2 separate regions of the Homo sapiens genome follow, and region 1 is linked to region 2. Evidence: fine-mapped expression QTL. A gene starts in region 2. The other region holds a variant in brackets. All regions are shown on one strand. Distances are between the middles of the regions. Region 1 holds the start of RNU5F-1 (RNA, U5F small nuclear 1). Region 2 holds the start of ARMH1 (armadillo like helical domain containing 1).

Evidence for each region. PIP is the estimated chance that this variant, and not a neighbour inherited with it, causes the effect.
Region 1: its variant is fine-mapped to the expression of ARMH1 in blood mononuclear cells (TOPMed, PIP 0.99).

What each region holds. Positions count from the first base shown.
Region 1 is chr1:44,712,396-44,727,097 of GRCh38, reverse strand. ARMH1 (armadillo like helical domain containing 1) reads right to left here. Exons shown (of 12, transcript NM_001145636.2): 7 at 2,854-2,976; 8 at 2,706-2,778; 9 at 2,430-2,559; 10 at 2,259-2,336; 11 at 1,881-1,962; 12 at 1,507-1,807. The coding sequence ends at 1,695. It overlaps RNU5F-1 (RNA, U5F small nuclear 1), which reads left to right and starts at 5,196; the gene lies at 5,196-5,313. LOC105378690 (a long non-coding RNA gene) reads left to right here and starts at 2,979. Exons shown (of 5, transcript XR_007066059.1): 1 at 2,979-3,063; 2 at 5,059-5,139. RefSeq lists silencers at 3,367-3,661, 13,961-14,020. The variant C/T (reference allele first, on the strand shown) is at 6,714.
Region 2 is chr1:44,667,378-44,682,079 of GRCh38, reverse strand. ARMH1 (armadillo like helical domain containing 1) reads right to left here and starts at 7,366. Exons shown (of 12, transcript NM_001145636.2): 1 at 7,207-7,366. TMEM53 (transmembrane protein 53) reads left to right here and starts at 7,599. Exons shown (of 3, transcript NM_024587.4): 1 at 7,599-7,749. The coding sequence starts at 7,689. SNORD145 (small nucleolar RNA, C/D box 145) reads left to right here and starts at 11,024; the gene lies at 11,024-11,123. RefSeq lists silencers at 7,427-7,476, 7,547-7,596, 7,747-7,886 and an enhancer at 7,654-8,155.

The DNA.
Region 1 (14,702 bases), 45 kb before region 2:
CAGTCTCCACCTACCTGCCCTAAGTTCCCTTGAGACTCCCTTTTTACCAGGCCCCTCCCCCTGGGAGAAGGTGCTTTGAGCATGAGCTCCCCTTCCTCCATTCCTATGATGTAAGGTTTTCTTCTTGGTCACTTTGCAAGCTGGGGACCTCTGGCCAGCAATGCCCTGCCAGGTCTCACTCGCCAGGCTACCTGCTGCAGGAGATGGCCTTTACTTGCTGCAGGAGACGACCCACCCGCTCAGTCCAGTTGGCGGAGTCTAGCTTATGCACTGGTTCCCGAGTTCTCGTCCCACGAGCCCAAGAAGAATGAGGATGCACTGGCAATTGAAGAGTGAGCAAGGTGGGGTTTTACTGAGTGATAAAACAGCTTTCGGTGGCTGTGGGGGGTGGTCCCCCTACCTGAAAGTGGGAAAGTCCCCCTAATATGGCTGAGTCCAGGGCTTCTATGGGCTCAGAATGGGGGAAGGGCAGGCCATAGGTAGTATTGGAAAAGGCAACATTCAATTGGTTAAAAGGCATTATTCAGAAAGAATCAATCAGGAAAGGGCAGGCAAACAGAAACAGAAGTTCTCACTCTGGGTTGTGGGTTTCATCCAGGACCAGCAGTCGGTCTTTCAGCCTTCAGGCTGTTTTTGGTTTGAAGGTGGGGTTCACTGGGGACCCACCCCTATCTGCCTAGGCATTTGGCTGCCTCCTGTTGCTATCTCCTAGATCAATGAATAAAGCTTCTGCTCTGCTTTATGGAACCTGGCCTTGTTCTATTGGTGCAAATGGTTCCAGGCAAGGAAAGGACCCATTAGGATCAAACGACCCCCTTTAATGTCTGTAACAACCGGAGAAAAACCAGGTAGGTAGGGTGTTCTGGAGGAAAGGGTGCATAGGCCATCAGGGAGTGGAGGTGAGGCCCTCTATTCAGGCTATGCCCTTGAACCTTCTAGGGTGTTGGTGGCCCTTCCCTCTGGATCTGCTTTTTTTTTTTTTTTTTTTTTTTGAGAATGAGTCTCACTCTGTCGCCCAGGAGGCTGGAGTGCAGTAGTGTGATCTTGGCTCACTGCAGCCTCTACCTCCCGGGTTGAAGTGATTCTCCTGCCTCAGCCTCCCAAGTAGCTGGGATTACAAGTGTGTGCCACCACACCCGGCTAATTTTTTATTTTTTATTTATTTTTTAGTAGAGACGGAGTTTGACCCTGTTGGCCAGGCTGGTCTCGAACTCCTGACCTCAGGCGATCCGCCCACCTCAGCCTCCCAAACTGCCAGGATTACAGGCGTGAGCCACCGTGCCCGGCCTGTTTTTGTGATGGGGTCTTGCTTTGTTGTCCATGATGGCTTCCAACTCTTGGGCTCAAGAGATCTTCTTCCTTCAGCCTGCAGAGTAGCTAGGATTACAGGTGCAAGCCACCGTCCTAAACTTGGACCTGCTTTTTAACTTGAGGAGCACAGGCACCACAATCTAGCATCATAGCTCTCACTTGACCTCCCTTCCCCCTCCACACACACAAAGAACAGACAGGTATCAAGGCTGTTTATTGACTCTTCGCAGCCAGCGGCTCTTCCTCTGCCCCTCTGGGATGCCTAATCCCCGTCTCCCCCCTGGAGCCAAGTGGAGTGGCTCTGAGCTTGACCCCAGGCGCCTTCCTCTTGCCAGGCTTCCCTGCCCCGCAGCCTTGGCCTTCCTGGTTTGCCACAGGGGCTGTTACTCCTTTGATTCTACATCCTCCTCGAAGTGTGTGAGGTAGGCCATCTGAGCCGAATCGCGCGAGCCATAGAGAGTGTTCATGCTGTAGGAGCTGCCATGGAGGCACAGGGCTGCAGGCAGGAAAGGCGGGCGTGAGGCTGTGCTGGCGGCGCCTGCGCCCGGCTTCCCTCGTCCCACACTCACCTTTGGTAACATTGACTGTGTTGGCCGCCAAGATGTCCGCCTGAATGCTGTCTATTTTCATGTACAAGTCCTCAGCGTTGCTCTGAGGACAGGAGCAAGGGGGACCCGGCTGGGGTGCCAGGGCAGTCTGGACTTGGAGTTGGGCTTGGCAGAGGGATGTTGCAGGTGGGGGGCGGGTCGGCAGCCTGACCGAAAGGGCAGGAAAGGGAACAGGAAGGTGGCGGGTGGAGGAGCCTACGCCAGAGCAGTCCCTCCTGCAGCTGGTGGCCAGGTCCACTCTGCATGTGGCGCGCTCCAGGATGGGGACTGTCTGAAGGGGCATCACACTGTCCGAGCCGCCATCTGCTCATTGCGGCGGGGCAGGAAGGGCGCACTTACCAGGAAGAGCTGGTAGAGTTCCTCCCCCATGCACTTGCGCACGTGCTCCGCCACCAAGGGGAACATCTGCACGAAGCACTGCGCCGCGCGGGCGAGGCGGCGTGACTGCGGGGGCGACGGGGCTGCGGGTGCCGCCGCCCTTCCCGCCCCCTAACCAGCCGCCGCGCGCACCTCCAGCGTGAGGCTGGCCAGCCGCTGGCTGTTGCTGTGGTCCGTGTTGCCCATGGCGGCCATTAGGCCACGCACCACGCGCAGGTACAGCAGCTCCTCGGCGATGCTCATGTCGTTGCGCGCCAGGACCCTGGGCCGGGGGTTCGGGCTGGGGCGACGCCCTGGGGCTCACCCGGCGCACACCCCCGCCCACCCGGCGCACGGAGCGCTCCCGGGGCCCGCCGGCAGCGCCAAGCCAGGCTTGCTGCAGCTACCCACTAACCCCTGCCCGCTTACCCGATGGCCTTGGCGGCCGCGGCCTGCTGCAAAAACATCGGCAGGCTGGGGGTGAGCTGGAGAACCGAGGGGTCTGAGGAGGGGGCAGCCGTGAGGCAAGAGACCGCCCTCCCGTGGCCCAGGCAGCCCCATTTGAGCAGGTCCTTACCACTGAGGATCTTGGCCTGCAGTTTGGAGATCTCCTTGACCGACGGTATCAGCAGCGCCACGAGGCCCTTGAGCAGCGCCTGGCGCACATCGTAACCGACCAGGTCTTTGATCAACTCGATGGCTGCGGAAGGGCAGAGGTGCTGGAGAGAGGCCCCAGGCCCCTCCGCCACCGAGGAAGCAAAGAACCCCGTGAACCAAGTCGCCACTCGTCAGTGTCCTCCTCTTTTACTGATCAGCACTGTGCAGGGCGTGGGGGAGCTGGGAAGGCGAACCTCAGTTGAAGAGCAGGAGGAGGGGGCTGAAGGGGGAGGAGGAAGGGTTGGATGGTGAGCCCACCTGTCGAGGCGGCCTAGGATGTCAGCGCTGGAGGCTGAGACCCCAGAGAGGGGGGCCTTCGCCTTGGAGGAATCCAGGTTTCATGGAGGAGGGAAGGGCTGGGTCTTTACGGGAAGACAAGATGGAGAAAGACAAGGGGTGAGAGGGAGACAGAGAAAGTGGGTGGGAGACTTGTGGCAGGAAATGAGAAAGGGGAAGGAAGGTAGGCGGCAGTTTAGAGAAACTCTCCTTCTAACCATCATCGAGCCCTCTCCACCAGGCAGGGTGCCAGGCTTTCCATACAGCACCCGTGGAAGCTCACCAGAACCAGATGAGGTTCACTTCCCCATTTTACCTTTGCCGAAATTAGACACAGAGAGGTAAACCACTTTGCCTAAGTTACACAGCTAGGAAGTGATGGAAGCAGAAGGAGGGGAGGATTTGGTTAGGAAGGAGAAGGGGACTAGAATTTATGGAGGGCATTTCCTGCAGGGCTTTCCTGTAGATATTTTACAGGCAGTCATTCATTCAGTCCAGCATTCACTCAGTCTTTCGGCACGGCTGCATGTGAACGCCTATGGTGCCAGGCGCGGCATTGGGTGTTGAGGATACAGACTGAATTCATTCATTCGACCAACCCTCCTTAAGCGTGCACAAACAGGCAGCGATGATATGGTGACAGGTGCTGTGGAAGGAGTCAGTGATTGGGCTGTGGGAGCACAAGAGAAAATCGGCAAGGATTGAATGTTTTTGTAAAGAAGAGAAAGGAACCACAGAGCTAGAGGGGGCAGGAGGAGAAGGAGATGCTAAGATGATGGCACACCAGCATAAATGCTACCTTTTTTTTTTTTTTGAGACAGAGCCTCACTCTGTCGCCCAGGCTGGAGTGCAGTGGCGCGATCTCGGCTCACTGCAACCTCCGCCTCCTGGGTTCAAGCAATTCTCCTGCCTCAGCCTCCCGAGTAGGCTGGGATTACAGGCGCCCGCCACCACACCCGGCTAATTTTTTTTTTTTTTTTTTTTTGTATTTTTAGTAGAGATGGGGTTTCACCATCTTGGCCAGGCTGGTCTTGAACTTCTGACCTCGTGATCCACGCGCCTCGGCCTCCCAAAGTGCTGGGATAGCAGGCATGAGCCACTGGGCCCGGTGGGCCCAGCCAGTAAATGCTAGTATTTTTGTTTGTTTGTTTTTTTGAGACGGAGTTTCACTGTCATCACTCAGGCTGGAGTGCAATCGCTCACTGCAACCTCTGCCTCCCGGGTTCAAGCGATACTCCTGCCTCAGCCTCCTGGGAAGCTGGGATTACAGGCGTCTGCCACCACGCCCGGCTGATTTTTGTATTTAGTAGAGACAGGGTTTCACCATGTTGGCAAGGCTGGTCTTGAACTCCTGACCTCAGGCCTCCCAAAGTGCTCAGGCCTCCCAAAGTGCTCCCAAAGTGACCGAGAACTCCTGCCTCGGCCTCCCAAAGTGCTGGGATTACAGGCATGAGCCACCACGCCTGGACTTTTTTTTAAATTTAAATTTTATTTTTTTTCTGAGACAAGGTCTTACTCTGTCGTCCAGGCTGGTCTTGAACTCCTGGGCTCAAGCGATCCTCCTACCTCTGCCTCCTTAAGTGCAGGGATTACAGGTGTGAGTCACTGTGCACCGGGCACTGCTACTCTGAACACATGTGGCTACATGGAAGACAGGACTTGGCCATGTGCTCTCCCCAGCTCAGTAGTCAAGTGCCTCTCTCCATTTACTGGTAAGAGAGAGAGGGTTTAGAGGAACTCTTGTTCCGGCGCTCAGCTCATTTGCATCCCAGAATGCATTGTAGATACGAGAATTATTACCAGGGTTATCTGTTTGAATAATAATATTTAAACTTTTTTTCTTTGTCAGGAGATTTTACCCAGTGAGAACATGTTTAGGACACTTTTCTACAGTGGAAGAAAAGCTTCTGTCTGCAGGTCCAAAGGCACCGTAAGTAGAGGGAGACCAGTCAATAGCTGGGAAGCCAGGCAAAAGGCTAACAGGCAGATCTCTGGTTTCTCTTCATAACGAATAAATCTTTCGCCTTTTACTAAAGATTTCCGTGGAGAAAAACAACTATGAGTTTATGGTTAAATTTTTTGAAGTCTTGCCTAGGCAAGGCTGAATGTTCTGTTACTAAAGAGAGACGTGTGGGTGGGGTGTTTCATGCTTTGGGAGGTTGGGGTAGCTCCACAAATGTCACCCAGGTTGTAGCGGAGTGGTGTGGTCGCGGCTCACTACAACCTCCATCTCCCATGCTCAAGCAATCCTCCCACCTCAGCCTCATAAGCCTGTCTAATTTTGTGTACTTTTTGTAGTGCCCGGCCTACTGTCATGTTTTTTTAGCTTCTTGTAAACATTTAGGAAGCTAAATGTTTATAAGATTTTTTTTTTTAAAAGAAAACCTAGTTTTTGACAGTCTGTATCTAATAATTTGGCTGAAGTCTTGTGAGTCTTTCTAGTGTGCTAGTTCCAATTTATAGTGATGACTTTGTGTGCATGATTATCTTATACTTTGGACTGGTCTCATATTTGAAAAATTAAGTGTAGGAAAAACTTAAGAGTTAGGATGATGATACTTTCTTCCAGAGATAGTTTTCTTTTGTTTTTATCAGGTACCTGGGGACACAAACAATTCTGGACTACCTTTGTCCACATTCAACACTTGAGGTTCTCTGGACCACCTGGTAGTTATATAATCCATACAAGACCACCTGAGGGCCGGCTTACTTTTGGCCCACCTTGACCTTGAGGGTACTGTCTTCTGGGGTCCAACTTAAAGTATGTATGCTAGAGGTATCAGACTTCCCACCGAGAGCAGAATCTCAGTGCCTTCTCTTTCTTTTGCCCTTTTTTTGTTTTGTTTTGTTTTGAGATGGAGTTTCACTCTGTCACCCAGGCTGGAGTACAGTGGTACGATCTCGGCTCACTGCAGCTTCCACCTCCTGGGTTCAAGGGATTCTCCTGCCTCAGCCTCCCGAGTAGCTGGGATTACAGGTGCGCACCACCACGCCTGGCTAATTTTTGTATTTTTTAGTAGAGACAGGGTTTCACTATGTTGGCCAGGCTGGTCTTGAACTCCTGACCTCAAGTGATCCACCTGCCTTGGCCTCCGAAAGTGCTGGGATTACAGGTGTGAGCCACCACGCCCGGCCTGAGAAGTCTTCTTTATCTGGCTATTGCTACTCATTCTTCTAGGCTCAGCTGAGAAATCAACTTTCAGGAAGCTGCCCCTGGCCTGCTCTCCTCTGCCTTCACTCTTCACTCAGGAGTAGATGTCCTATGTCTCTGAACCCGTAGCACCGTATAGAATTCTTGCTATAGAATTCTAGTACTATCCACTAAATGGTCTCCTCACTAGTGTGTGAACTCCAATGAACATATCTGACACATCTCACTTCTGTTTACCTAGAGCCTGAAACCATTCCATGTACACAATGCATGCTCCATACATCTTGTTGAAAAGACCTCATTGGATTCTGCATTCCAACAGGCGAGGCTTGGGTCATGGCAGCCTAGGACCA[C/T]GCTTAGAAACCACCAGCCTGGTGGTGGATGACCCCAGAGGAGGCTCTGCAGTGGCCACTGTGGTCCTCATTCACACAGCTACAGAACTTTCCTAGCTTGAATCTTGGACAGGCTGGAGAGCCAGAACTGTGGCAGCTGTCTCCCCGTATACCCCATGGCCAACTTTTTTTTTTTTTTTTTTTTTTTGAGACAGAGTTTTGCTCTTGTTGCCCAGGCTGGAGTGCAATGGCACGATCTTGGCTCACTGCAACCTCTGCCTCATGGATTCAAGCAATTCTCCTGCCTCAGCCTCCCAAGTAGCTAGGATTATAGGCGCCCGCCACCACACCTGCCTAATTTTTTTGTATTTTTAGTAGAGACGGGGTTTCACCATGTTGGCCAGGCTGGTCTCTAACTCCTGTCCTCAGGTGATCCACCCACCTTGGCCTCCCAAAGTGTTGGGATTACAGGCGTGAGCCACTGCACCTGGCCCCATGGCCAACTTTGAGAGTGCTTTGAAGCCAGGACCTTATACTTCTTGGCCACCCCAGAACTGGGCACCACTCTATGGATGCTCATATCATACAACCCAGGCACAACAGAAAGGGGAAGAGTGTGGTCCTTCTCACAGTGGGAGACACAGGGCACCTGGTGAGATGGTCAGAGATGTGGACTGCGTGGATTTACAGAGCACACAGAACAGGTCTCTGCTTCAGCTCCTGCAAACTTTACTTGTTTAACTCCAAACAGACATATGCTGCCTAAAAAGGAACACATGCTGGCGATTTCTAACTTTGTCAGAAAACTATCATTGATGATTTCCAAAAGAGCAGTGGTCTGGGAAGGCAGAGGGAGCAGCCACATCCTGTGTGCTGCAGGCTGCATGCTCAGCTCTCCTGGGTGCTGAAAACACCGGCGGAGGGATGGGGAGCTGACTTCTCCACTCCAGGGCTCAGAGTGCCCTTCGGCAGGAAGAAGAGAATGAGTTTTGGCTGGTGTGTCAATCTAAGGAAAGGCATGGAAAGGCTACTAGTAGAGAACCAGCCTGCCTCCTCGAAATTGCCCTTGTGCCAGATCCTGCTCTCCTCTGCCTCTTGCCCATCATCCTCAGGCTCCAGAGCCTTGAGGCACACTAGAGGGGGCCTGGTCCTGAAGCCCTATAAAAGCTAGTTTTGTCTCATCCTGGTTTTCCCAATCACAGAATTAAAAAATCACCTGGAGGTGGAAGATCTTCAAAGACATCCTGTGCTACCCCTTCCAGTACTTATTCACCCTTTGGGGGACAGACCTTGTGGGGCAGACCCTTTCCTCTGAGGACCTTCCTGATTTAGAAATAGTGGCTTCATTCAGAAATGCCTTTTTTTTTTTTTTTTTTTTTTCCGAGACAGTTTCACTCTTGTTGCCCAGGCTGGAGTACTATGGTGCGATCTTAGCTCACTGCAACCTCTGACTCATAGGTTCAAGTGATTCTCCTATCTCAGCCTCCCAAGTAGCTGGGATTACAGGCATGCACCACACTGGCCAGCTAATTTTTTGTATTTTCAGTAGAGACGGGTTTCTCCATGGTGGTCAGGCTGGTCTTGAACTCCCGACTTCAGGTGATCCGCCTGCCTCGGCCTCCCAAAGTGCTGGGATTACAAGCATGGGCCACCATGCCCGGCCCAGAAACGCTTCTTATGACCAACCAGCCACTGCTGCTGGGCTGCCTCTTTCTTCTAAGTCTTCTAAGGTAGCCCTCGCAATCCCATCTGCCCACCCTCTGCAGCCTCTGGTTGCCCAGATGTGGTCCTATTTTGGAATCAAAGGCCCAGCAACATTGTGGAGGGAAAGGGACCAGCCCCGGGAAGGGGCAAAGCACTTGAGCTTCCCTGGCTTCCCCCAAACACTCTCTGATCTGGACAAAATGGCAGACCGGACATCTCTGGCTGCTTGGCAGCCGTAGCCTGCACCGGCTGCTGCCTGAAACCCCAAAGTATTTCTCACTTGTTCTACCATTTGGTTTCTTCCCTCTTCTTGAATTGGTGCAGCTCATTTTTTTGGAGCCAAGTGGTCTGGCCCCTCATGCATCTGATGACACTTGGCTTTGTCGCCTGCAGCACGTCCCTCATTAGTAGCTGGGCTCTTCCCAGGCACAAGCTGGCAGTGCGTAATGCCAGGACATCCTGGGCAAATGTCTGCCTGTGCCCAAGAGCTCTTCCTGCAGCAAGACATGACTTGGTGGACACTCAGGGTAGAAACGAACAGGTGAAGATATTTTTATGAAAATTTCTTGACCACAAATAGCATTTTCTGCCCATGTAGAACCAAATACTCCAGGAGACAAATGTCTAGTTCTGACTATTCACTTTACCTAAATGCTTAATCTTTTGCTAATTATGTATTTGTAACACTTGGAGCTACTTAGAAAAATGAAGATTTATTCACTGAATCATTTCTGACTGAGTTTTAAAATTCACAGCTGTCACTGTTTATACCCAAAGTGAAAGTACTGGTCTCTGCCCAAATGTCTTCACAGGAACCACAGCCAGTTACAACTCTTTATATATCGTGCTAGTTACTAGGAAGGGCAATTCCTTCAGAAAGCAAAGGACAACAAAAGACTATCTTTGGCAGCTTTGCCTAAAGCCTGTGGTGCTGATAACACCCAAATGTCCTAAAGCTGAGCAATCACTGATTTATTCATTGATTCATTCATTTATTTAACAAAATTCTCATTGAGCATCTTGTCTGTGCCAGGCCTCTGGGCTAGGGCTATGAAGAGGACTAAGATCTAATCACTGGCCTTAGGGACATCACAGCTGAGTGGGGGATACCAATAGGGAAACTGGCATTTATGAGGCAGTGTTATCAGGGCCATGGGAACACAAAGGAAGCCAGGTTGGTTGATGGAGTGGAGATGATAGGGGATGGAGAATCAGGAGAAGGATTCCTTGGAGACGGTGATGCGTGAATTGGCAAAACCATAGGGAGAAGGGAGGGGCTGGAATGTAGAATGTGGCAAGTGCCATGTTGGATAGTGCCATGTCACATTTGTGGCCAGGCAAGGGAGATCTGGCTGGGAAACAGGGATGCTGGGTCATGCATCAGAGCTAAGCCTGTGGAGGCAGGCCAGCCCCAGCTTCTGCAGGGCTATGCATGTGCCAACAACCCGATACAGCAGGCATTTTTCTCATTTCATTTCAGAGAAAAGGAAGGCTCAAAAAAGTTGAGTAGCTCGCTCAGGATCAGATAGCTAATAAGAATAGTTCTGATTTCAGGCCGGGCGCGGTGGCTCACACCTGTAATCCCAGCACTTTGGGAGGTCAAGGCGGTTGGATCACGAGGTCAGGAGTTCACGACCAGCCTGGCCAAGATGGTGAAACCCCGTCTCTACTAAAACTACAAAAATTAGCTGGGCGCAGTGGCAGGTGCCTGTAATCTCAGCTACTTGGGAGGCTGAGGCAGGAGAATATCTTTTACCTGTGCAGCAGAGGTTGCAATGAGCCGAGATCGCGCCACTGCACTCCAGCCTAGGTTACAGAGTGAGACTCCGTCTCAAAAAAAAAAAAAAAAAGAAAAAAGAATAGTTCGGATTCCAAATCCCATATTCTTCACCACTAAGTCTACTGCCTCCACTCTGGTGGTGGACTAGGAAAATGAACTGTGTGTGGGCGCCATACTGGACAGATGAAGATTGGTGTAGAGGCCAGTGCAGGTGAGCAGTATGAAGACCTGAATTACAGCAGTGGAGACAGAATGGGGAAGAGGGAACGCATCTGCATATTGAAGAGTTAGAATTGACTGGTCTTGTTAGAAGTTGGTTGAAGGTGGGAAGCAAAAAGACAAGACAATTACCAATATTTCTAGCCTGGGCAGCTGGGTACTTTCCACTGAGATTGGGACCTTGGAGAAGAAAAGCTTTGGAACTGGAATATCAGAAGTCCACTGGTGACATCTGAGGGGAGGTGTTCAGAAGGCAAATGGACACACAGGTCTAGAGCTATAGAGAGGTCACTCCACTACTCTGTCCTCCATCCATAAAATGGGGAAAATAATAGTGCCCACCTCCTTGGCTTGCTGTGAGGGGTAAATGAGTAAAGATCAAGGGCAGTATCCAGCATAGAGTTAACACTCTATAAAGATTAGCGACTATTGTTTCTGTCATCAAGGTGGTAGGTGGTACATAAAGTCGTGGTAATTAAAGTTGTGGGAGCGGACGAGGTGCCATAGACAGCAAAGAAGGAGAAGAAGACCTGGAGTTGAATGCTGAAAAAAAAAAATTGACACCTAGGAGACTGGTAGAGGAATGGGAATGTATAAAAGACCGAGAAGCAGTTTCTAGAGCCATAGGAGGAAGCCAGGAGAGTATGGGTTTGGGAAGGAGGATGAGAGTATTCAAGGAGGAGGTATCATCAGGAGGGTTTGAATGTTTGAGAGTTCAGGCCCCATGAAGCTGAGAGGATGCTCTGTGGGGCCCATGCTCATGCATTTGACAAACAGGGATTGAGCACGTGCTAGGTGCAGTGCTGGTGCTGATGAAACAGCAGTAAATGAAACAGATGTGGCTGGGTGCAGTGGCTCACGCCTGTAATCCCAGCACTTTGGGAGGCTGAAGCGAGCAGATGATCACTTGAGGCCAGGAGTTGAAGACCAGCCTGGCCAACATTGTGAAACCCTGTCTTTACTAAAAATACAAAAATTAGCCAGGTGTGATGGTGGGCGCCTGTAATCCCAGCTACTCAGGAGGCTGAGGTAGGAAAATTGCTTGAACCCGGGAGGCAGAGGTTGCATTGAGCTGAGATTGTGCCACTGCACTCCAGCCTGGGTGACAGAGTGAGACTCCATCTCAAAAAAACAAAAAACAGATGTGAGGTCCTAGCCACTCACACTCCATGGAAACTCTTTAATGGTGCAGGAGACAAATTCATTGCTCCAATCCGAAGAGGAACTTTGGAATCCACAGCCTATCAGCATTAGAGGAAACCTCAGTGATCACTGGTCTGATCATCTCATTGAATAGACGAAGAAACCAAGAACAAATGACTTGCCCAGGAAACCACAATGAACAAGAGACAGGGCTGTAGCAGCAGGCTTAGTATTCCTTTGGCAGAAGGAGCCATAGAAATGGCATTGTACCTGGGAACTGTGGATATTCCATGCAGCCATTTCCAGGGTGCTAACAGCACTGATCATTTATAATTCTTTGATCCCAGAGCCTTGCAAAACCAGGGTTCCGGGTCTTTCTCTGCAGGTCCAGACAAGCCTGCCACCTACTGGACACATATGAGAAGTGCGCTTCCTTACCGAGGTTTGCTTCCTTTTCCAGCAGGGCACTAGCATGAACGTGTTTAGCATGTTGCACTGCTGTAAGAAACAGACCAGTCAGGCGTGGTGGCTCATGCCTGCAATCTCAACACTTTAAGAGGCTGAGGCGGGAGGATCGCTTGAGCCCAAGAGTTTGAGGCTGCAGTGAGCTGTCAAGCCACTCAACTCCAGCCTGGGAAACAGTAAAACTGTTTCCCCCCCAACAAAAAAAGAAAAAAGGCCGGGGACAGTCAAATCAGGTTGGGCAACATCGTGAGATCCCATCTCTAAAAAGAATTAAAAAAAAAATTAGCCAGGCATAGTGGCATGTGCCTGTAGTCCCAGCTACTTACTTGAGCCCAGGAGGTTGAGGCTGCAGTGAGCCGTGCATGCGCCACTGCACTCCAGCCTAGGTGACAGAACAAGGCCCTGCCTCAAGAAAAAAGGAAGAGACCAGTGTCAGCCATCTTCCTGACATTCTGTAATTAATTCTGTCTCTGATTTCTGTATACCCTGCTACCTTTTTTTTTTTTTTTGAGACGGAGTTTCACTCTTGTTGCCCAGGCCGGAGTGCAATGGCGTGATCTCAGCTCACCGCAACCTCCGCCTCCCGGGTTCAAGGGATTCTCCTGCCTCAGCCTCCCAAGTAGCTGGGATTACAGGCATGCACCACCACGCCCGGCTAATTTTGTATTTTTAGTAGAGAAGGGGTTTCTCCATGTTGGTCAGGGTGGTCTCGAACTTCCGACCTCAGGTGATCTGCCGGCCTCGGCCTCCCAAAGTGCTGAGATTACAGGCATGAGCCACCAGGCCTGGCCCCTGCTCCCTCTTTTTTTTTTTTTTCTTTTTTTTGAGACGGAGTCTCGCTCTGTCACCCAGGCTGGAGTGCAGTGGTGCAATCTCGGCTCACTGCAAGCTCCGCCTCCCAGGTTCACGCCATTCTACTGCCTCAGCCTCCCAAGTAGCTGGGACTACAAGCACCCGCCACCACGCCCGGCTAATTTTTTTTGTATTTTTAGTAGAGACAGGGTTTCATCGTGTTAGCCAGATGGTCTAGATCTCCTGACCTCGTGATCCGCCGGCCTCCCAAAGTGCTGGGTACATGCGTGAGCCACTGCGTCAGGCCCCCTGCTACCTCTCTAACTACATTCTGTTCAAAGCTCAATGTTGAAACAATAAAAATATATTTTATGCACACCTTTTGTTTTTAAAGCCAGGCAACAAAGTAACTAATGTATGTGCTATGGTGGTATTTTTATTGCTGGACAAAGAATTACTATGGTGTGTCTTCCACTGGTATCTGCTTTCACCCAGCCCAACCAGTCCGTGTACTGATGTTTTGAACTATCCCTGAGACTCGAGTCAAGCACCAGTGTCCTCAAAAAGGACGCAGTATAAGGCAAGGGCAGGATGCAGATGTTTTGAGGGGCAGGCAAATGGGGAAGTTAGAAATAAGATTTCCCCCCAAGATTTTCACTTAAATCCCCTGGAAGACTGTTTTATAGACTTTTATAAACGCTGAATAAAGTGTCACAGTTGAAGTGCTCATATACTTTTGGGGAAGTAATGCATCTTTTAAAAATAGCAGGTTTTTATGTGAAAGTCTCCCTCAGTGTCAGAGCCTTCTGACTGCTGTTCAATGAAGCTGTACAGGACAGGTGGCCTCTTATACAGCAGGAAAGGCTAAAATTACTGCCCATGTCAGCTGAGAAGTACAAAGCAGGGCCGGGTGCAGTGACTCATACCTGTAATCCCAGCACTTTGGGAGCCCGAGGCAGGTGGATCGCTTGAGCCCAGGAGTTGGAGACCAGCCTGGCCAACATGGTGAAACCCCATCCCCGCTAAAAATATGAAAATTAGCCAGGCATGGTGCTGCATGCTTGTGGTCCCAGCTACTCGGGAGGCTGAGGCACGAAAATTGCTTGAATCCAGGAGGTGTAGGTTGCAGTGAGCCAAGATCATGCCACTGCACTTCAGCCTGGGTGACAAAGCAAGACTGTCTCAAAAAAAAAAAAAAAAAAAAAGGCCGGGCGCAGTAGCTCTTGCCATTGCACTCCAGCCTGGGTGACAGAGCGAGACTCCGTCTTAAAAAAAAAAAAAGTGCAAAGCAAAGGCATAACGTTCTGTAAGGCAAAAACACTAGTTTTTAAATGAGACCCAGGTGGTGCAGTGGCTCACGCCTGTAATCCTAGCACTTTAGGAGGCTGAGGCGGGTATATCACCTGAGGTTAGGAGTTTGAGACCAGTCTGACCAACACGGTGAAACCCTGTCTCTACTGAAGTTATAAAAATTAGCTGGGCGTGGTGGCACATGCCTGTAATCCCAGCTTCTTGGGAGGCTGAGGCAGGAGAATCGCTTGAACCTCGGAGGCAGAGGTTCCAGTGAGCCAAGATCGCACCACTGCACTCCAGCCTGGGCAACAGAGCAAGACTCCATCTCAAAAAAAAAAAAAGAAAAAAGAAGAAATCCTGATGTATTTGCTTAACCCTGTGAGGGGTATGAAGCTAAGAAAACATAATTTTAAAAATATGGTTTACTGTAATCTTAACAATGTTGTCTGTCCTTTTTTTTTTTTTTTTTTTTTTGCGGTTCCCTGTAGCTGGGACCACAGGTGTGAGCCACCATGCCCAGCTAATTTTTGTAGTTTTAGTAGAGACAGAGTTTCATGGAGTTTCACTCTTGTTGCCCACTCTGGAGTGCTGTGGCACGATCTCGGCTCACTGCA
Region 2 (14,702 bases):
CACTGGGCTTGGGATTGGTTAACGTGACAAACATAGACCTTGCCCTCGGGTGCTTACAGACTGGCAGGGCAGAGAGACAAGCAAAAAGGTGATTTTAATGAACAGTGGAGAGCGCTCTGATGGGATATATCCCAGGTTCTGTTGGCGCACAGAGAAGAGACATGGAATGCAGACTCCAGCGACCTCCCGCTTTCACCTCCAACCAACACAGCTTTCATACCCAAAACCCACACCCCAAATCTGTGACTGGCTAGCACCATCCCACCTATGAAGTCTACAATTCCAAGCTCCTTACCTTCCCACCTCTTCCATCTATTCTCAGAAGGCCTACTTTTGGGTTTAACAAAGAAAGTTATAGGCCATTAGGTAAGAATGTCGTCATACTCCTCTTCTTTCTTCATCTCTATCCACATCCATCCTTCTCCTCTCCTTCTCTAGCCATCTACCAGAGCTCTGCCTCCATCCACCCCGCCTTCTCAGGGCCCTCATTCTACTCATTACTCCTGCCTCCCTTGTATCCTTAACCCCTCTATTTAGGCATTTTTCTTGTTAGCCTTGATTTTTACCTATCTTTATTATTATTTATTTATCAGTGTATTTATTCGAGATAGGGGCTCACTCTTGTCACTCAGGCTGGAGTGCACAGCACCGTCATAGCTCAATGCAGTCTTGAACTCCCGGGCTCAAGCGATCCTCCTGCCTCAGCCTCCTGAGTAGCTAGGACTATGGGTGTGCACCACCATGCCTGGCTAACTTAAAAAAATTTTTTAGAAATGGAGCCTCACGGCCGGGCGCAGTGGCTCACGCTTGTAATCCCAGCACTTTGGGAGGCTGAGGCAGACAGATCACGAGGTCAGGAGATCGAGACCATCCTGGCTAACACGGTGAAACCCCCTCTCTACTAAAAAATACAAAAAGTTAGCCGGGCATGGTGGTGGACGCCTGCAGTCCCAGCTACTCGGGAGGCTGAGGCAGGAGAATGGCGTGAACCCGGGAGGTGGAGCTTGCAGTGAGCCGAGATCACGCCACTACACTCCAGCCTGGGTGACAGAGCGAGACTCCGTCTCAAAAAAAAAAAAAAAAGGGGATCGGAAGGGGGCAAATTGGAGGTGGGGGCACCAGTTAGGAAGTCATTCCTACGGCCTTGACAAAGACGCTGATGATATTAGGGTTGGAGAAAAGTAGAAATGTCACACCATTTGAAGAAACAGGGCCTGGTGACTGACTGGCTGTGGAAGATAAAAGACGGGGAGGAATCAAGGAGGATGCCTGGATAACTTTGCTTCCAACTTCACAGAGAATATAGGGGCCATCAAGCGCAACCCTCTCCTCTTACGATCATCGTATCAGCACCCACCCTCTCCGTGGGCACTAGGTTCTACTCCTGTCTTCAATCTTCCCATCTTCCCTGACTCCTCTTAAACACTTGCTCAATCCCCACCAACCCAAATAAATATACAAACAAAGCCATCTCCTAACTACTTTTTCCGTAAGCTTCTACCCTTCCTACTTGCTTCACCCCCAGATTTCTCCATTAGCTCACTGTGGCCTACTGGATAAAGTCTAAACCCAATATGGCACTCAAGGCCCTTCAAAACTTGGCCCCAGCTGGGCGCAGTGGCTTACGCCAATAATCCCAGCACTTTGGGAAGCTGAAGCGGTGGATCATGAGGTCAGGAGTTCGAGACTAGCCTGGCCAACATAGTGAAATCCCGTCTCTACTAAAAATACAAAAATTAGCTGGGTGTGGTGGCACGCGCCTGTAGTCCCAGCTACTCGGGAGGCTGAGGCGGGAGAATCACTTGAACCTGGGAGGCTGAGGCTGCAGTGAGCCAAGACCGTGCCACTGAACTCCAGCCTGGGTGACAGAGTGTCTCAAAACAACAAACAAACAAACAAACAAACAAACAAACTTGGCCCCAATCTAACTTCATCTCTAGTCACTTCCACATTACAACAACCTTGCACTCTCAACTCCCCAGGCCCTTCCAGGGCCCTCTGCATCTCAGTGTTGCTCTGCCATCAGGAATGGCCAGGTTCCTTTTTGCCCTTTGGCAAACTCCCTGGGACAACTAGGGGTTTGCAGCTCTGGTCCCATCCATGCCACCTCTTCCTCTAATATGCTTTAAAACTTACCCATCCTTCCCACTAGAGTGTGAGTTCCTCAAGGGCAGGGGTTGGTCTTCCCTGTCTCTGTGTCCCTAGGACCTGGCATAATGCCTGGCACAAAACAGATGTTGAATAAATGCTCGCTGAGTGAATGTGTGAAGAAATCACCCAGCTCCTGTTGAGATGATTATATCTGAATGTCCATGATATGCAGGTCCATAAAACTACCAACTTCCCAAAGCTGCCATGTGCGGAGTGGCAGAATCTCCATCCAAGAAGGCCAGTGCAAAGTCTACGAGGTGTTTTACAGCTATGACAGGAAACAGCAATGTCAGCAGCGGTGTCATCTTTGGACACTAAGGACAGGGATTCAGTGCCATGAACGGTCAGTTAAATTGTAATTGGAGTGAACTGTTCTTCTGTAAACCATAATGTTATTTAGCTGCAGCCAAATGGCATTCAAGAAGGGGAGAAATTTTTTTTGAAATGTCACAGAAATTATTTCCAATTTGGTGCTCACAACCAGAGACTCTAATGATCAGTGGAAATGAGAAGCAAACAAATTAGCACTAATGGAAAATGGCTTTTGGAAAAGAAGATTTAATTTATAGTCAACTGATCATGGCATGCAGCATGCAGTAAAAGTCAGCTTCACCAGCTTGATCATAAGAACTGGAGCACACATGGAATGCCAGAGAAAAATATATGTATGCCATCATGCTTATTGGGATCTCTCTGTAAGTGGCAGCCAATTAAAATAGTCATTATTTTACCTCAGAGAGAAAACGGTGCAAAAAATCAAGCACGCGAAATTAAAAATCCAGATTAAGAACCTCGGTCCAAATTGGTTTGTTTGTGGCCTTCTAACCTTGGCAAAGTCTTCTGCAAGGATAACAGACCTACTTTGTCTTCAGCCCAGAGTGGACTCTTTGTTTTTAATTTCCTCTCCATCTTCAGAGGTGATTAATAAATCTGGACTCATCCATAAATCATTTCTATAGTGGCCAAATGGTTCTTCTTCATGCAGGGAAACTAAAATCACACAATCTCAAAAGCCTCAGCTCTCATGCTAAGCCAAAGGTCCTTGGCAACAAGCGAAGGGGAGGTATTAAAAATCAAGAGGTCAATAGGTCTTGTTTCTAAATAAAATTTCCCAGAGGGCTTCCCCACCCCCCCGGCAAATCAAAAGACACCTTCTGAAAGCAAAGAGGCCTCCAAGGCATGGGTTGCCAGCCTGGCTCACTGTCCCCACATGGCCTCGGAGACAACAAGCAAGTCACTGCCTCCTATTCCTGTAGGTTTCACATGTAGAATGAGACAGGCCTTCTCCTTGGGCTCCCGTCCCTGACTCCTAACTCTCAGTTCTCCATTCAGAGATAGGGAGAGAGAAACATTATCTCCTCAAACTTCCAAACAAGGTGTCCTTATTTCTCTCCCAGGGGCATATGCACTCCAATTTGTCACTTCCTTCTCATGGACCCTCTTCTGCTCCCCAGTCATACCCTGGCAGATACCCCTACCCCTGCTACTCATCACTTCCTGGTAGACTCCATCTGCCCCCACCTTTTCCTCACATCTGTCCATTTTCTCCATCCTCTCCCCACAAGAACTCCTTTCCCCCATCTCCTTCCTATGAAATCCTCTGCCTTCATCTTCTCCCCACTTGCCCTCATTCCTACCCACAGCCCCCACTCTTCTTCTCCCCAGACTCACTTCTGCCTCCAACACTGCTCCACAGACCTGCCCTCATCCTCTCTCCACAACATGTAACTGGCGAGGTCAACCACACTCTCCTTGCCCCTTCACTGCTCTATGCTTCATCTTCCTCGACCCATTTCCCAGCCTTCCTTCCCTTCCCAACCTTTTTACTCTGCTCTTGAAAACCCTTCTTCCCAATCAGCTAAGTCTCCTCCATCCTCAGCCTCTCCAGTCACCTGCCCACCTCCAGCCTGCATCCAAAGCTGGCTCTACCCCAGGGCTCCCCTTCTGCATGGCCCTCCTGGTAGAATCTGTTTAGATTCTTACACCCCCAGGATTTCAGGTTTAGGAGGGGGCCTCATGTCTCCTTGCCAAAGCCCAACTCAGTTCCTTATTCCACCTCCTTCTTGTAAAAGCCCTTACTACTTCAAGGGTCATACCATTTAGCTGTCTCAGCCTTTGCCCCTCCTCATGCTGTCACCTAGAGACTCCAGAAAAACCTGCTCTGCCCATCAGAGACTGGTACCTAGCTCACGGGCATCCTCTTCCCTTCCCTCCCCTCAAGTCTTTCTATCATCCAGGGGGAGTTCAGTGGCCACATCAGCATCCTGACTGTCTCCTGTACTCCACTTTGGTCACTGACTCCCACGGCCACACAGTGGACCTTGTCATCACCGGAAACTACTCAAACTTCATTCTTCCACTTTCTGATCACAACTCCCTCATTCAATGATCTCAGATGTGGATTCTCTGACTTCACTGGGACCTCTAGTCCATACATTTTTTTTCACTCTCCTATCCAGTTTAGATACTAAGGCCCTTCATTTCAATCACTGTTTTGCCACAATCTTCAACTTCCTTGTCCTTTGTCCTTCCATTGTATCCGCCTGGTAAAACCCAAACCTAGATCAATTAAACTAACCTCTGTGTACCCACCACTAGGTGGCTGAATGTTGTTGAGGGAAAAATGCATATTACACAACCTTGCAGACTGCTGCTTCCGAAAATTAATGGTCACTAACCTCGACAGGGCCATGATAACTGCCCAGAAATCTGTTTGCTACCTTAGTCATCTCACTGCCACTCTCCAGTGCTGCTATTTTAATCTTTCTCTGCTCTTTTCAATCTCGCACACCATCTCCAATCCCACTCTCACTGGCTGATATAATGTTCTTATTTGACAGAGAAAATGGAAACCATCGAAGAATTCCCTCAGCTTCCTGTCACCAAACCCACCAATTAACCTCAACGTAATGCTTCCCTTCTGCCACAAAACAAATGTTCCTCCACCCTTCTAAGTGAATTTCTTCACCAACACTTTGGTGAAGTCTTTTTTTCAAGGGCACCATTCTCAGTTATCTTCTTTCCCTTATAGTTTTATCTTTTTCCCCTTTGCTGGATCCACATCAACATTTCTTCCATCCGAATAAAAACCTGTGTTTCCTGCTGGATATTGCCTTCTTTTTTCTTCTCCTAAATAGCCAAGCTTTCTGAAAATGTATCTTACATGAATCTTCACTTCCTCAATCCCATCTGCTTCTCAAACCACTGTAATTTGACCTCTGCTCCCATCACTCCACTGAAACTGCACTTGTAAAGGTCACCAACAACTTCCTTGTTTCTAAATCCAGTGGATTCTTTCAGGCCTTATTTTACTTGATTAGTCATAAGCCTTCAACACTTTCCTTCCTTGGCTTCTGAAACACCACATACTACTACTGATCTTCTTACCATTTTGGACACTTCATCTTGATTACCTTTGCAGGTTCGTCCTCCTTTGCCAGACCCTCAAACTTGGGTGTTTCTCAGGGCTCTGTCCTAGGTCTCTTCTGACTCTACACTTACTCCCTGGGCAAGCTCAACAAATCTATTGGTGTGGCTGGCATCTATAAGGCCCCATAGACTCCCACACTGCAACTTCCAGTTAGACTTATCTGGCGAACTCCAGTTAGGCATATCCAATGGCCTTCTGGATACCTCCACTTGGATGTTCCATTGGCACCCCAAGCTCACCGTGCCCAGAACTGACCCTCTCCTAAAAACCCCTGCTTCCTCTCCTTCCTGTTTGCCCAAACCAGGAATCTAGAAGTCATCCTTCATTTCCCTTACTTCCCCCACACCCAATTAGTAACCAAGTCCATTTTTTTCTAGCTATAAGTGTCTAAGGAATTCATCCTGCCCTTTCCATTTCAGCTGCCACTCCATGCTTTGTGCCACCATAATCCTTCCCCACTACTGAAACAACCTCCTAACTGGTCTCCCTCCTTCTCCCAATCCTCAATCCAGTTCCTGCACTAATGTTTCTTTTTTTTTGAGACAGAGTCGCGCTCTGTCACCCAGGCTGGAGTGCAGTGGAGCAATCTCGGCTCACTGCCACCTCTACCTCCCAGGTTCAAGCCATTCTCCTGCCTCAGCCTCCCAAGTAGCTGGGATTACAGGTGTGCACCACCATGCCCGGCTAATTTTTGTATTTTTAGTAGAGATGGGGTTTCGCCATGTTGGCCAGGCTGGTCTCGAACTCCTGACCTGAAGTGATACGCCCGCCTCAGCCTCCCAAAGTGCTGGGATTACAGGGGTGAGACACCACACTGGGCTCTTTGTTTTGTTTTTTGAGACAGGGTCTCACTCTGTCACCCAGGCTGGAGTGCAGTGGCACAATCATGGCTTACTGCAGCTTTGACCTCCTGACTCAAGTGATCCTCCCACCTCAGCTTTCCAAGTAGCTGGGACTTCAGGCATGCGCTACCATGCCTGGCTAATTTTTAAAATTTTAATTTTGTAGAGATGAAGGTCTCACTATGTTGCCCAGGCTGGTCTTGAACTCCTTCAAGCCATTCTCCCGTCTTGGCCTTCCAAAGTGCTGGGATTACGAGTTTGAGCCACCGCGCCTGGCATGCAAAGAGTCTTTCCCCCTCCCTATCTCTAAAAGTCTTTCAAGGCCCAGCTCAAGAGCCAACCCCACTGCCATAAATGCCCCTTCTCTGATTCTGAGCTCCTCAAATCCTTACTCTTCTGTAGTATTTATCTCACACGCAGAATCAGAGTTGCTTCATGCATGGTTTCTCTCCCTCTCCCGTTAAGACATGGGAGAGGGAGGGCCAAAAGCTTGATTCTCACTAGGGCCTAAGGAACCTTATTTAGCCCACCCAGTCTCTGGCACATAGTATGTAAATATGCTGGCACATAGTATGTAAATATAGATAAATGCAAGAAAGTTGCACTCCCAGCTCCTCGGTGGGCCCTATCAACAGGGCATTCTCTAAAGTCATCAACTGAAGACTGCTTCCCATCCACCCATCCATCCATCCATCCATCCATCCATCCAGAATATGCCTCAACCCCACTGGGTGGAGGTTGGGTCGGCACGCGCCCCCTAGGCCGTTTTGTACGGTTTTATACCTCCAGCCCTCGCAGTTGCGGCTGGTAGAGGATGGCAGAGGTAGGTAGACGATGCAAGTCAAAGGGCACACTCTTCCGCCGCGTAGGATAGGACTCTGTTCGGACGAGTGACCCTGCCCATTCCCAGAATACAGCAACTCTTCAGCCGCCTCTCACCTACATGAGAGGGTGGGGACTCTTCCTGACCGGCGCCCCGGCTGACCAATACCTGATCCAGATCAAGCGAATTAGCCAATGGCTGCGGGTCAGTAATAGGGGCGGGGCATGGTTGCTAGGGCCGAGCTAGTGGGGTGAGGCGAGAGGCTCTGGAAGAGACTCGGTGGTTGCTAAGGCGGGAGGTCACAGAGCGCGGCGCAGGGATTGGGCCGTGTTGGGGGAGGTGTGTGGTGATTGGGCGGCGCCCAGGAGGCGCCCGGGTGAGGCACGGGTGCGCAAGCGGGAGTTCCGGCTGGAGACCCGTGCTCTGGGCCGGCGCCTTCACCATGGCCTCGGCAGAGCTGGACTACACCATCGAGATCCCGGATCAGCCCTGCTGGAGCCAGAGTATGGAATGAGGGTTGGGTCCAGGCGCGGGGAGGTGACCTCATGAACCTGTGGGTTGCGAGCGCAGCTGTAGCCCCGCCCCTCATGCGGCCCCGCCCTCCCTCGGGCCGCCCCCTCATAGGGTCTGGCAGGTCCTAGACTTAGAGAGGCTCAGAGAGCCCCGCCCCTCGTAAGTCCCGCCCCAGAGTGTTCCTCCCTGGCGAGCCCCGCCTCTGCCCGAGTCAGCTGCTCGCTTGGGACCTCTTTTTCTGTCTTTCCTGTCCGGGGTGCTCAGGTCCATGCCCTTTAATCACTTCTCATAGCTGAAGGCTGCCGAAAGCTGGATCCCTCCTGATTCCTTTGTTTGGGATTGGGCTTCCCACATCTAGCCTATCACTTATTATTTTCCCGAAGGCGTGGAGGGGGAGGCTCGCGGGGTCACCGATCCTCGCAGAAGCCCGGGACTCAGAACCCTTAGCCGTCCCTCTCCACTCTTCTCGGCAGTGGTTAACAGTGCAGTCTCTGCCGTCGGGTAGAACTCGACTGAAATCCTGACTCCTTCCTTTAGGAGCTGGATTACCTTTGGTAAGCTACCTTCTCTGAACTTCAGTTTCCTCCTCTGCAAAACCGGGATAAGGATAGTAACCTTCCTCATAGGGCTGTTGGGGCCATCTGGAGATTGTGTAAAGGGCCTGGCATGGAGTGAGTTCAGTAATTGGCATTTACGATCAGCATTGTTTCTCTCCTTACATTAAAGAAAGACATGTAGGATTCTCCACAAAATTAGGATTGACAGCAGGCCCGCATCCATGACAGTGTGAGTAGATCGGGGTCCAGAGAGTGGAAAGTTTGGTCTCTCTGGGAATTCTGGCAGAAGGGCCTTGAAGTATGATCAGCCTGAGGCCAGCGTGTCCCTCACTTGCATTAGTCCAGCATCGCCTTCACGCCTCCTGTCTCACTGCCTGCAGCCCAGCCTCTTAAACTGCTACCACAGTGATCTTTCTAATGCAAAGGTTTGATCTTATACTCTGCTCTCCATAAAACTTACCTCCTTAAGGAGAGCCTTCCCAGATCCCTCCCGTAGCATCTCATGTTCTTTGGTTGGAGTCTAGGAGAGGGCAGCCCTTAGACTCCCGCAGAACAGATGGCCCCAGACCAGCTGTTTTTCCCTAGAACTGGATCTGCTGGCTTAGCGCTTTTGGGTTTATAGATGTAAAAATACTTTGGACACGTTTTGGCGTCAGCAAGCCATGAAGTCAGTTAATATTATTTCCTTTGGAGAGTCTTCGGCTGCAAAGGGTTGGAGCTGCCTTCTGCACGGCCAGGAGGGCAGCCTCGTGGTCCTGGTTCACATTTCAGCTCCATGTCTTACAAGTTATATGTCTTTGGCAAGCTATTGAACCTCCCTGAGCCTGAGATTCCTCCACTGTGAAATGGGAAGAGTACTAGTGCCTACCTCCTCGTGGGATTGCGAGGGTTACGAGGTAGCGTTTGGATGTGTGTCCCTGGCACAGTGCAGGTGCTGCCATTGCATTGCTCCCCTGTGGTTCCCCCTCAGCCCCCCTTTCTTTTTTTTTTTTTAAGAGATGGAGTCTCCCCTGTCGCCCAGGCCGGAGTGCAGTGGCGGATCCCATGGCTCCCTTTGCTGCTCCAGGAGGCTGGGTCTTAGAATTGGAAGAAATCTCAGAGACTGTTTTGTCCTGCCTCCCTCTGTTGGCATGAGTGCATTCCATTGCTAGCAGACCCTTCCCTGGGGCGATGCTTCTGCCCAAACATTCTAGCCTGTTGGAGGCAGCTGGGATTGTTAGAAAGCACTTCCCTTTCTTGAGCCACAATAGGCCTTCCTGTAATTTCCGCTCTCAGTTCAGTATTTGCTGTGTCCTGGCTGTGGGATCGTTGTTGGCCACTCAGAAGTGACTCACACGCCCAAGGAGCTGAGGTTTTGGGGAGGGGAGTGAATTTATAAGCAGGTGGTTTCAAAATGGTGTGCTAACTGCAGGGCTAGAGCATTGTGGTGGGAACGATACAGAGCAAGGAATCTCTCTTCCTCTGTTCAAGAGGACAGCTTCGTGCCTTCACATTTCCTCCAAGGGAAACACCTCCACGGCTTTCAGTTGTTTCTCCTCCTTATTGCTGCTCCTGACTGGCTTTAATTCATTGCCCTTCCCTCTCACAGTCCATGCTCCAGAGGAGAGCTAGAGGTTGTCAAACCCCTCAGAAGGAGATCACGACGCTGTGGTCCCCTGAATCCATTTGCTTCCTATCTGCAGAGCTTCCCTCCAGGCCAACATGGCCTGATAGAGTGACAGTCTTTTGGAGCCCCAGAGATTGTCTGTCTTTTGCAATTACTGTTTAATGGTGGAGAAGTGTATAGGACATTCATATTTAGTTTCTGAAATTACTTTTTAAAAACTTTTTTTTTTGAGGTGGAGTCTAACTCTGTCGCCCAGGCTGGAGTGCAGTGGCACGATCTCAGTTCACTGCAACCTCCGCCTCCTGGCTTCAAGCAATTCTCCTGTTTCAGCCTCCCAAGTAGCTGGGACTACAGGCACCCGCCACCATGCCTGGCTAATTTTTGTAGTTTTAGTAGAGACAAGGTTTCACCATATTGGTTAGGCTGGTCTTGAACTCCTGACCTCAGGTGATCCACCCGCCTCAGCCTCCCAAAGTGCTGGGATTACAGGCGTGAGCCACTGTGCCCAGCCTTTAAAAACACTTTTTTTTTTCAGTTTAAAAAATTTTCATTTTCTTATATGGAGACAGAGTCTTACTGTATTGCCCAGACTGGTTTGAAACTTCTGGGCTCAAGCAGTCCTCCTATCGCAGCCTCCCAAAGTGCTGCGATTACAGGTATGAGCCACTGCACCTGGCCTGAAATTACTTTTCCCCTGTATTTGAAAAATCGAAACCACAGAGCCCATCACTGCTGTGAGCTGACAGAGAAGCTGATGCTGGCACATTAGCTAGCTGGAAGGCAGCTGCAGATCTGGGGTCATTCAGAGCCCTGGGCCTTGTAGGTCAGGCTTGGCAGCCCAACATCCTTCTGCTGGGAATCCTACCAGCCAGTACCTATTGGCTGCCCACACCGATGGTCGTCTGCCCAGGCCTTTGCTAAAGCCGGTCGTTTGACCCAGAATCTGTCTTCCCTCCTCCCTCTCTTTTTCCCAGGCCAGTGATCCCCTCAGTCTCTCAATACCCTCTCTTACTTCATTTCATTTGGGAAGGGTCTCTCCTGGGGCTCCCATAAGCACTATATTTTCCTGTTGTCGTGTTTTTGATGGCTTCACTCACTGTCACCAGGGCCTGGGAGGGATGATGTACCAAGTGAGCTGAATGGAATCACTTGGCAGCACTGTAGGCCCAAGCCAGAGCTGCTCTGACATCCCAGGCCCAGGCCGTGCCACCCCTCCTCCCATCCAGAGAATGGTCAGCCAAGTCCCACCTAGATCCCCTCTGTGACTTGCTCATAGGCCAGCAACCTTCTTAAAGGCACCGTGTGGCTCTCATGTTCAGTAAACATAAAGAAAAATTCATTCATAGAATTAATGAGTCTGGGGCCTGGTCATGGGACAAACATTTTGCTCTTAAAGTAAACAGAAGGTCTTAAGGGGATCACAGAGAGGGGAAGTGAGGGGGTTTTTGCTCCCCAGGTTTTACCGCATGCCTTTTTTGCTCATCACTGGCTGAGGTCAAAGAAATATAGACATCATTTTAACCCTCAGGAAGTTGTCTCGGACACCCAGGAGACAGTGCTGAAGGGTCTGGACCACCATGGTGGGCCCTGTGGTGGGAGAGGCTTCCTAGAGTAGAGCAGCCCAAGCTGGACCTGAAGCTTCAGGAGGGCTGACAGACCCCCATGGTGAGCAGCAGAAAGTGTGGAAGTCAAGTCCATGGCCATACCACCTTGAACATGCAGATCTCAGAAGCTAAGCAGTGTCAGGCCTGCTTGGAACTTGGATGGGAGAAAGTGCAGAAGTAAATCCCTGAAGGGGGACAGTGAGTGGCTGGAGGGAACAGGGGCCTGGCAGGAGGCCGCGCTGTGCTTTTGTGGGTGGAGAATTAGATGAAAACCTGAAGATCTGTCATGATGGACAGACCTCAAAGACCCAGGTGAAGAGAGTCGTTTGGGATTTGATCCTTGTCTTGTCTACGAGGACCCCAAAGGTCTTTTTTTTTTTTTTTAATACAGAGGAGTTGTATTTATTTTTGGAATCATGATCTCTTTTCTTTCACCTCTAGATAAGAGCCCTTTCTGGCTGGGCGTGGTGGGTCACACCTGTAACCCCAGCACTTTGGGAGGCCGAGGTTGGCGGATCACCTGAGGTCAGGAGTTCGAGACTAGCCTGACCAATATGGAGAAACCCCATCTCTACTAAAAATACAAAATTAGCCGGGTGTGGTGGCGCATGCCTATAATCTCAGCTACTCAGGAGGCTGAGGCAGGAGAATCGCTTGAACCTGGGAGGCGGAGGTTGCAGTGAGCCGAGATTGTGCCATTGCACTCCAGCCTAGGTAACGAGAGCGAAACTCCGTCTCAAAAAAAAAAAAAAAAAATAGGATGCTTTCTAAGTGTCTGCTCTATGCCAGGTGCTGGTGCTGTACTAGACCCTGGATTTGAGATCCAGGCCTCTTTGCAGGCCTCCTTTTCTCTGAATGTCTGTGGTACTTAACACTGTTAACCATGTTCTATCCACATGCCAGGCCCACCAGGAGCTCCTTTCATTATTTTATTAATCCTCACAACCACCTTGTGAAGTAGGGAGAACCCTTAATCCTGTTTTACAGATGAAGAACAGATGCTCGTGGGGAGGTAAAGTGTCTTGCCCAAAGTAATTCCAGATTTCAGCTTAAGAGCCTTACTCCAGAGCTTGTGCATGCCGAGATTTCAGTTGCCATTAGGAGGGGCTGCCTGAATACGATGCCATTTCTAGGAAACAATTAGGGACATGCACAAAGAAAGGGGTGTCCATTAAAGTATTTTTATAACAGCAAAAAATTGGAAACAGCATCATATCCAATAATGGGAGATTTGGTCACCATAAATTATGAAACATTCTATAGCCTCTCTGAAGCCACTAAAAATAATGGTGTAGAAATATATAAACTGACAGGGAAAAATGTTCACAATATATTGCCAAACGGAAGAAAGCAGATTACAAACAATATGATTCCAATTTTATTAGATATTCATTTTCTACTTTTTCTACAGTGAGTATGCATTACTTGTGAAGTAATAATAATTTCAATTTATTGAACTCTTTCCTTCTGCCAGGCACCATGATAAGCCCTCTATAGCTATTATCATATTTAATTCTTTGTATCATTGTCCCCATTTCACAGATAAGGAAATTGAAGCTTAGAGAACTTGATTAAGGTCTGTGTCATAGTTATTAAGTGGCAGAGGCAGAGATTTGAACCGAGATATGATTTTGTACAGTATGTACTCTTAGATACTATGCTACTCTGCTCTGCTCTTCTTTTAAAAAGTAAATAAAAAATAAAGTAATTTGGCCGGGTACAGTGGCTCACGCCTGTAATCCCAACACTTTGGGAGGCCGAGGGGGGTGGATTGCTTGAGCCCAAGAATTTGAGACCAGCCTGGGCAACATGGCCAAACCCTACCTCTGCAAAATAATACAAAAATTAGCTGAGCATGGTGGTGCTTGCCTATAGTCCCAGCTACTTGGGAGGCTGAGGTAGGAGGATTACCTGAGCCCAAGAGTTCGAGGCTGCAGTGAGCCATGACTACACCACTGCCCTCCAGCCTGGGCAACACAGAAAGACCTTGTCTCAAAGAAGAAAAGAAAAATTTGATTTAAATATAGGAACTGTGAGACACTAGAAAGTTTTTCTGGGGAGTAGAGAAAATTAAGACTCTTTCAATTTTTTGCATGTTATTTTATTTTTATTTTTATTTTATTTTATTTTTAAGACAGAATATCGTTCTGTCGCCCAGGCTGGAGTGCAGTGGTGCGATCTCAGCTCTGGGTTCACGCCATTCTCTTGCCTCAGCCTCCGGAGTAGCTGGGACTATAGGCGCCCGCCACCACGCTCGGCTAATTTTTTGTATTTTTAGTAGAGACGGGGTTTCACCTGTTAGCCAGGATGGTCTTGACCTCCTGACCTCATGATCCGCCCACCTCGGCCTCCCAAAGTGCTGGGATTACAGGCGTGAGCCACCAAGTCTGGCCAATTTTTTGCATTTTAAAAAGAAAACATGGTTTCTATTTTCATTCTGGCTTGCAAATAAAAAAGTACATATTGTACTGCAGACCCTTATGCCTTATCAGCCCATTCCTTTGTCTTCCCCATATGCCCCTGGGGTATACACAATCTAATTTATGCTTGAGTTTTATGGCTTGAACTGTTGTACAATATACGTATTTGTAATTCTGGCACTATCTGTGTCAGTGTTATTTGTTGAGAAATTCTAGAGGACAGGGAGCTTGTGAGATTAAATTGCTTTGTGGGGTACTCGAGAAGTGCTAGGGTTGAAAAGAATCCTTCCACATTGCTGAGGGGCTTCTGGGCATCCCTGGCCTCTTTGACTTCTCAACTGCTTTTGACTCTGCTGGACCACCTCCCCTGTTGTTTGAGATAATATTTTAACTCTCATTGCAGAAGTTATACATACTGATTTTAGAAAGTGGGAAAAAAATCATGAAAAAGAAATTGCCTCTAATCCCATAAATAATTGCTATTAATATTTGATGTATTTTTTTCTATGCATTAAAAAAAATACATGGCTGGGCGCGGTGACTCATGCCTGTAATTCCAGCACTTTGGGAGGCCGAGGTGGGCAGATCACCTGAAGTCAGGAGTTCGAGACCAGCCTGGCCAACATGGTGAAACCCCGTTTCTACTGAAACCACAAAAATTAGCCGGGCATGATGGTGGGCGCCTGTAATCCCAGCAACTAGGGAGGCTGAGGCAGGAGAATCGCTTGAACCTGGAAGGCGAAGGTTGTAGTGAGC